Linked DNA regions of Homo sapiens: region 1 is linked to region 2. The links come from fine-mapping of genetic effects on gene expression. A gene starts in region 2. The other region holds a variant in brackets. All regions are shown on one strand. Distances are between the middles of the regions.

What was found. PIP is the estimated chance that this variant, and not a neighbour inherited with it, causes the effect.
Region 1: its variant is fine-mapped to the expression of CCDC69 in whole blood (INTERVAL, PIP above 0.99).

What each region holds. Positions count from the first base shown.
Region 1 is chr5:151,179,715-151,184,093 of GRCh38, forward strand. CCDC69 (coiled-coil domain containing 69) reads right to left here. Exons shown (of 9, transcript NM_015621.3): 9 at 1,338-3,900. The coding sequence ends at 3,723. It also overlaps the pseudogene PDGFRL2P. Among named protein-coding and RNA genes, the nearest start is that of ANXA6, 24 kb to the left of the region's middle. The variant G/A (reference allele first, on the strand shown) is at 2,062.
Region 2 is chr5:151,222,037-151,226,415 of GRCh38, forward strand. CCDC69 (coiled-coil domain containing 69) reads right to left here and starts at 2,056. Exons shown (of 9, transcript NM_015621.3): 1 at 1,887-2,056. The coding sequence starts at 1,934. LOC105378230 (a long non-coding RNA gene) reads left to right here. Exons shown (of 4, transcript NR_160730.1): 4 at 1,440-2,314. RefSeq lists enhancers at 1-58, 1,479-1,588, 1,609-1,808 and silencers at 1,929-2,008, 3,492-3,786.

The DNA.
Region 1 (4,379 bases), 42 kb before region 2:
TGGCTGCAAGGATGTGATAAAGGTGAACTCCACAGAGGCCTTAGGCATTGGAAAGGGTAAAGGATCATTCTCCCACTTGTCAGAAGAGGAAACTGAGACCCAAGAAGGGGAAAGGAGCATACAGACGGTCAGGAGACACTGGCTTGGCTTTACCAGGATTTCCCCAACATGTTCTTTAGAAGGGTGGAATACCAGAAAGTTCCCTCCCACCCTACCTCACTTCCTCTTATAACCATTACCTGTCTTGGAGATTCAAAATACACAGGTACATGTAACAGACTCAGTGGTCGGAGTCTACCCAATTTCACTTTGCTTTTCTTAATGTTTCCAAAACACTTTTGGTAGTAAAATTCTTCCTCTTCCTCTCCTTTGAGGAGGTAGCATCCCTACAGAAGCAGAGGGCCACAAAACCCACGTTGGGAAGTACTTCCCTGGACTGAGTTACCTCTGGACACTCTTTGAGAAGGGGAGGGAAACCCAGCTTTTCTCTGCAGACTTGAGAAGCTTAACGTTTTTCACAAAGAACCTGGCCTTTAAGGTGCTCTGACACCAAGCTGAAGTGTGACCTTGGGCAAGTCACTTCTCCTTTCCCCAAAGAGATAAATGGTGCCTCTTACCTGACCCTGGTGTGTGAGTCAGAGATGCACCTGGGGCAGCTGATGGACAGTCCGTTTTTATCCCCTACCGTTGGGCCAACCACTCTACATCAGTGAACAGGCCCATGTGGTACACGGGGAGAGCCAGGTACAGCAGGAGGCAGAGGGCACCCTGTATGTGGAGGGGACCTGGGCTAGGGATGCTGGTGTCTACACCTGCTGGGCCACCAACCTTCAGGGCACTGGTTTGGCCACCACCCATGTCCACGTGACTCGAGGTCCTCGTGTCTCCTCTACCCCTTCCTAGCTCCCTCCCTGGCCACAGGCATCTGGATGTGGAGCAATAGGCAGAATCAGGGGTAGGTACCTGTGGGAACATCAGTGTTTCTGATGCCAAAGAGGGGTCCTGCAGTGCAGAAGGTGACTTCTCATTCATCCTCGCAGTCTCTCCCACCCCATCCCTCTGTTTTCACCACTTACTTCAACCTCAGCCTCACTCCAAGCCTTGGTCTATTTTGAAGGCCATCCTTTAATCCAGGCTTCACCCTAGCCCCAGGCCCCACATCCACAATTAGGGCAAAGCAAGGGCCAGTGGGGCTTTGGTGCTTGAGGAGAGTGCCCAGAACCACGAGTGGGCTACCCAGGCCCCAGATTTACTCTTCAGAGATCCCCACCATTGGCAGAAGTCCTTGTGAAGACCCACCTCCCCACCCTCCCAGAAAAACACAAAAGTCACATAAATAAGGTGCCGCATGTTCTTTTTAGTTTCCATACATCGTCTGTCCCAGAGTGAGGAGAAGTTGATCTCCTTCCCACATCCACCACAGGCTGCGTGAGGGAAGCCTGGCTCCCCACAACTTGCTCCTTCTCCAGCCCTGCCCCTCTCAATTAAAACAATGCTTTCTTTTTTCTTTTCTTTTTTTTGAGACGGAGTCTTGCTCTGTCACCCGGGCTGGAGTGCAGTGGCGCGATCTTGGCTCACTGCAAGCTCCGCCTCCTGGGTTCACACCATTCTCCAGCCTCAGCCTCCCAAGCTGCTGGGACTACAGGCGCCCACCACCACGCCAAGCTAATTTTTTGTATTTTTTTAGTAGAGACAGGGTTTCACTGTGTTAGCCAGGATGGTCTCAATCTCCCAACCTTGTGATCCACCCACCTCGGCCTCCCAAAGTGCTGGGATTACAGGCGTGAGCCACTGTGCCTGGACTAAAACAATGCTTTCTAAAGCGCATTCTGCAGCCTGATGTGCCTGTGAGGTGAGAGGTGTGGGAGGGACAGAAGCTTTGTTCAAAGAGGTTTGGGAGAGGCTGGATACTTAGCTCCCTTCTTGTAAGTTTGCCACACACATTGGCATATTAAAGGTTCTGAGAAGTCATTCAGGTCACTGATCTGTTTAGGTGTCCCCAAATAACTTGGCCACCAATCATGTCTACTCCTGGACATTAGTTCAATAAACTAGTGTATC[G/A]CAGATGTGCTTTGCAAAAAGCTTCATGAAAAAGTACACATGTGATTCCCTCCAGGGCTTTCCTCGAGGCTCCTGGGTGACCTGTCTGACCATGGCTGGAGAATCAGCACAGCACTCCCCTAGCCTCACCTCTTCCCCCATTTGGCTGTGGAAATGGAGAAACACAGTCACCTCTGAACTTCTAAACCTAGAAACAGAAGGAGACTGTACACAGGGGAATACAGAAGGCAGTCTGGGATGATGTCACTATAGAATGACTGATGAAAAATGCAGATTGACTGTTCTGACGCTGGCTTAGGGCCTGGGGCTGAAGCTGGGGACCTTGAGCAAGGCCCTTTGACTCCTGTGATCTGTTTGCCATGTTGCCAATGAGGAATAGGAACCTGCTTCAAGGATCTTATGAGGACCAGGGGAGGGAGGGGTATGGAAAGCCTTTGATGCAAATGCTCTATGCAGAACAGGAGTTATAATTATAGTCTCCATTAGACATGAAGCTTCCTGAGAAGGATCCGAAATCCACAGACTATCAGGACTGGACGGCCTGCTGAGGTTAGTTACTCTAGCCACCCCTTTTCACTGATGGGGAAGCTGAGCACCAGGTTGTAAAAGCCTGGGCCTGGGATCAGGGGCAGTGGGAGGAGGAGTTAAGGCAGGGAGCAGGAATGAAAAAGAAACTAAGTGGGTGAGGGCCAGGGAGAGGAAGATTAAGTCACAGATCTGATTTTCCAGAGCCTGAAGAGAAAAACAGAGCAAAGGATAAGACCCGGATGACAGATGAGATCTAGATTCGACTCTGGGAACTGCTCCATGCCTTGGTTTCCTCATCTGTGCAGGGATGAGGTTCCAGCTCTGATAGATGAATGGACTCACAACCACCAAGCTTGCCCCTGTGCCCAGGTGGCACCAAGACTGAAGGGCCAGGAGGGCTGAGGGGATGCACCTTGCCTGGTAAAGGAAGAGGAGCTCTGGCTACTGTCCCTTGGTGGACACGACTCTGGCCCAGGAATGATGCCTCAGCTGGGGAGGCTGCCTGGCCCTGTCAGCCCCAAGGGCCTTCAGAGACCCCCTCTCTACCACTCACCTTCCCCACTCTGATTTGCGGGGTTTGTCCACACTCCCCCCAACCCCTACTCTGGCCTTCAGACAATCCTAGAATGGGACACTGCAGTGACATAAGAGTCCTTTGACCAGTCCCCCCACCATTTTAATGCAGGGGTAAACTGAGGCTCTGAGCAGGCCAGGGTGGAGTGGAAACACCTAGAGGAAGTTGATAAGTCAGCAAGTCGGCAGCAGAGCTGACAAGCTGGGACCAGGGGCTGTCTCCTTTATGTCAAATGGCCAGCGTGACACAGACTGCCCCTGGGAAAGCCTCGGAACTTCTCGGATTGGGACAGAGTGCTGGGGCAGGGAGGAAATGTCTCCTCTTGCTTATTCCCTTGGCCAACTCAAGGGAAGACGCTTCTCGGGGCCTCCAAAACCCTGTGGGTGATTCCATGTAACTCAAGGCCCCAGGGCTCACTGGGCACACACCCAGGATCTCCATCTCGCTCCCACCCTCGTTCCTTCCTGGAAAAGAACTGAGAGGCTCCTGCTGTCTTCTCCAGAAAAACCTTGGAAGGAGCTGTGACTTCAGGCGTCGTGGTGGGCCCAGGCCCTGCACCCTATGTGGCGAGGAAAGAGACCTCAGTGGGAGTGACAGGGGCCAGAGGGAAGGCAGGCGAGGCATTGGCCCCAAGGACCCGGTACAACAGCTCCTCCTTCTCCTGCTGGAGCTGTCGCCGCAGCTGCACCTCCTTCTCCAGGGCCTCACGCGTGAGAAGCAGGTCTTCTGACAGCTGCCTGTGGATGCACACAGAGCCCAGGGTTGCCTACTGGGAGCAGCTGCCACAGAGACCAACCCATTCCCCCAGGAAGCCTTCCTTAGATGGACCAGCAGCCTGCTGCAGGGTCCCCACTGCCCTCCTTGTTGGCCTGTATACAAGAGGCAATTCAATCTGTTGACCAAGGAGCGGGGGCCTCACAGACAGGCAGGCAGTTCTGAGCTGCTTCAAATCTCTGCTCTACCACTTAGCTATATAATCTTGAATAAGTTATTCATTCTTCTTAAATTTCAGTCTTCTCATTTGTAAAATGGGAAGAAGAAGAATAGGACCCAGCTCTTAGAGTAATTATGAGGATTAGATGAGAAAATATGTACAGTATTCAATAAATTATGTCTGACACATGATACTAGCTCTTATTTACTAAGCCCTAAGAACTGATTCATTCCACTTAGGCCTGGTGCACTATAAATTTCCTGTTTCCTCCTCCCTATATTG
Region 2 (4,379 bases):
CAGGAGTAAAAGATTTTACGCTAAAGTCATCAAGAAGCCACTGGAAGCACAGCGGGAGGAGGTGGAGACAAAGAACACGGAGCTAGGGGACTAGATACCTGGGTTCTGCTCTGTGTTGCTCTGTGACCTCAGTCATGCTCCTTCCCTTTTCTAGGCCTTAACCTCCTATCTGTATAGTGGGTGCGTCAGCCCAGGTAGTACCCAAAGGCCCTTTCCAACTCAGACAGGCTGTGCCAGCTTTACTTGCCCTTCAGAGCTTTGGCTGTGCCAGGGACAGGCAGGAACAGCTGGTAAGTCTCTCAGAAGGAGCAGGAGCCAAAGAACCTGTGCTTACTGTGACCTCCTCTTCCAGCTTGTGGAAGGGTCAGGCTCTTCCCCGTTTCCTCCACCTCTAGGTAGATGGAATTCACCCTTGGTCCACTTTGCAAGCTACAAGGTTGACACAGGTGCAGAGAACACAGACTCTCAGATGCTTAGGGATCATCCTGCTCATCACTCCCCATACAGGGAGAAACTGAGACCCAGGGAGACACAAGGGCTTGCTTGGGGTCACCCAGTATGTTTATGGCACCACCAGGACTTACACCCAGGGCTAATGTCTGCCTACCACTTGCTCAGTTACAAGTCTCAGCCAAGGCTCAGGTCTCTCCGCCTTGTCATCCCTGTCAGCCAGCCCCTTCCTTCTACTGATAGAGCCAAGCCTCAGTTTCCCTGTTGGAGTGAGTAAAGACATGAGGGTTTCTAGGTCAGGAGTTGGTGAGAATTTCAATCTGGTAATAAAGGGAGAGCAAGGAAAGCCAGGAGGTGTCAGAGAAGGGAGTAGAATCCTCCAGGCTAGGACTACTGTTAGGCAGAAAAACCTGTACTCAGGGCACAAGCAAAGCAGGAGCAGAGGGAGGACTAAAGTTCATTGCAAAACTATTAAACACTGTCACAGTTTGGGGCCTCTCAAGGTCTCAAGGGGGAATGATGATAAAGTTTAAGGGATCACCTAGTCCCACCTGGCTAGGGGGCAGGTAGTGGTAAGAAAAGGGGCCAGAATTTGAGGGTCCTTCTTCCCCTCTGCCTCACAGTGTCCCCTGAGGAGGCTATCTTTCTAGCTCCAGGCTCTGACCTTCTGGGCTCGTCAGACCCCAAGGGGCAGCTGGTCTCACTGCAAGAAACCTGAGAATTGTCCCCTGGGCCCTGACCCAGCTCCAAGGCCCCTTGGGGGAAGGACAGGAAGGGAGGAGAGGGCCACAGAACGCAGTAGATCTCCTCCCTCTTTGGCCCCTCCCAGCTACCCCAAGGGCAGCCCACACTCACCAGCTCTGGGGCCTGCAAGAGCCCTAAGACCAGCGCCTCAAACTTTAAAGCGTCATCACCTGGGCATATTGTTAAAAGGCAGCTTCTGTCTTGGCAAGACTGGGCCTGAGCCTGAGATTCTGCATTTCTGACAGGTCCCCAGGGATGCTGATACTGCGAGTCTGTGGAACACTCTTCGAGCAGCCCTGAGATTATCAGCCTTTAACCCCCGGGGGGAGGAAGCCGAAGGCCCAGAGAGGTCAAGTCACTTGTCCATGGCCACACAGCGAACAGCCCCAGACCGAAAGCAGAGGGCACCTGCCACAGACACACGACATCTCCCCACCCGAGGCAGCGGGAATCAGCTGCCTTTCCCTGGCCCGGGTGCCGTGTTTGTAAACTCGGCTGCTTGGTGCGGCTCGGGCCGGGGTAAAGGGCGCCTCCCAGCAGAGCCTCCCTCGTCTCTGAGCTGGCCTCTCCAGGTTCTCCGTCCGGTATCCCGGGCCGACCAGAGAGAGCCCGGGGCGCCGAGTCCTCTGCGGCGGAGCGATTCCGCACTCCCCTCTCCTCTGAAAGCAAACTTCTCCGCCGGCGCCCTTTACCTTTTTCGGGGGTTTGCAGCTGCTCAGCCTGCTGTGTCTGCAGCCCATCCTCCTCCGGGGGCTCCCGGACGCCGCTTCCCAACTCCGGGGCCCCCAGAGGAGCCTGCGATCCGGGCCCCGCTGCCCGCTCCGCGCCCGCCGGCTGGGGCTGCCGGCGAGACCCTGAAACTGAACCTGGAAGCGCTGTCTTGAGCCTGAGCTGGGGCGGCCGCCCGCCGTAAATACCCGAAGAGCGGGGCCTCAGTGTAGCCCGCAGGGCCAGCGGCGCCGCCACCAGAGGCAGGTGACCAGAATCCTTCTAAATAATAGGAAGCTCTGGTCAGGGCAGAAGAAAAGAAAACCTCAAGGAGCAACAGATGCTTTTCCGAACCCTCAGCTAAGAAAGGGCCGGGGGAAAAAATAATTAAAGCAATTATTTGATAAACTAACAACTATCATTCATTGAGGGCTGTTTTTGTCCCAGTTGTTTTATACATTTTATTTCTATTTCTTGCCATATCAGTGCAACAAAGGTATTACTTCCTCCATTTTACAGGTGAGGAAAATGGTGTTCAGAGATGCAACATGATTTGCCTAAGGTCACATGGCTAGTAAGTTACCACAGCCCAGATAGAATCCAGTTCCTTTTTTTTTTTTTTTTTTGCCGCTATCATAGTTCACTGCAGCCTCAAACTCCTGGGCTCAAGCGAGCCTCCCAGCTCAGCCTCCTGAGTAGCTGGGACTACAGAGGCTCACCACCATACCCAACCAAATTCTTTTCTTTTTTCCAGTCTGATTTTGAACGACCGCCCTCAAGCGATCCTCCCACCCTGGCCTCCCAAAGCGTTGGGATTACAGGCATGAGCCACTGCACAGAATACAGTTCTAACTCCAGAACCTAAACTTTGACTCAATGGCCTACAAATAAATCATAATACTAAGTTTATTGTATTTATTTATTTTTGAGACAGAGTCTCGCTCTATTGCCCAGGCTAGAGTGCAGTGGCACGATCTTGGCTCACTGCAACCTCTGCCTCCCAGGTTCAAGTGATTCTCCTGCCTCAGCCTCCCCAGTAGCTGGGATTACAGGCATGCACCACGACACCCAACTAATTTTTGTATTTTTAGTAGAGACAGAGTTTCACCATTTTGACCAGGCTGATCTCAAACTCCCAACCTCAGGTAATCCGCCCGCTTCGGCCTCCCAAAGTCCTGGGATCCCACACCTGGCCAATAATACTAAGTTTAATTTTAATGCCTCCTCACTTCTGGGCTGATAGTTTTTTCCACCTCACAAGCATCTGTAATATTTGACTCTATCCATCTTGGATAGATGTTATTCATCACAACAACCTCTTGAGGCAGGCCAGGTATGGTGACTATGGGACATAAAATGTCAGTGTCTAGGAAAAGGAGCTTTTGTTTATCTTCTCTTTGTTATTAGCTGAGGTTTCTGAAATGGCAATGCAGGAAAAAGATAACCAATTTTGAAAATCAGTGTGTATGCCTATTTGCGTGTATATTGGAATATTAAAGTCAGGCCCAAAACTCTTGGAAAGGTGTGCTGTGAAAACGGCTTAGAGTCATGAATGGGGAAAGAATATGAGACCTCAAAAAAATTGCTCCCTCCATAGGGTACAAAACCAATTGCAAAAGTGTGTAAGAAAGGAAACTAAGGAAACGTGTTATTAGGTTCTCAAAAGCAAGTATAATAGAGAATGGTGGCTCACAAAGTGTGATTCCCAAATCAGCAGTGTCAGCACTACCAGCCGCCTTTGTTGGAAATGCAAATTCTCGGGCCCCACCCCTGGCCTAAACTCTGGGGATGGGGCTTAGGAATCTATGGCTTCATAAGCACTCCACTCATGTCTGGCCTGGGCTAAAGTTTGAGAACCCCTGCCATAGGACGTGCTCCACAGGTACTGAAGAAACAGGATATACTTAAATTATACTAAAATTAACAATGTTTATTGGAACAGTGCTCATGATTAAAAACAAAGAACCCAAAACAACCTAAACAGCCAAGAAAAGAAGGTTGGTTAAATACATTATGCTATATCCATAAAAATAGAATGCCACATAACCAGCAAAAATACTGATGAAGATGAATTTTTTGTGTTACAAAACATAACAAACTCATTTTCATTAAAAAAAAAAATTGAGTGACTACCACTGTATTGGTGAGATTTTGAAATTTTAAAACAGTTTTTTTTTTTTTGAGACAGGATCTTGCAATATCACCCAGGCTGGAGGGCGGTGGAGTGATCATGGCTCACTGCAGCCTCAGTCTTCCAGGCTTAAGTGATCCTCCCACCTGAGCCTCCCGAGTAGCTGAGACCACAAGTGCCTGCCACCAAGCCTAGCTAATTTAAAAAAAAAAAATTTTGTAGGCCAGGCACAGTGGCTCATGCCTGTAATCCCAGCACCTTGGGAGGCTGAGGTGGATGGATCACCTGAGGTCAGGAGTTCGAGACCAGCCTGACCAATATGGTGAAACCCTGTCTTTACTAAAAA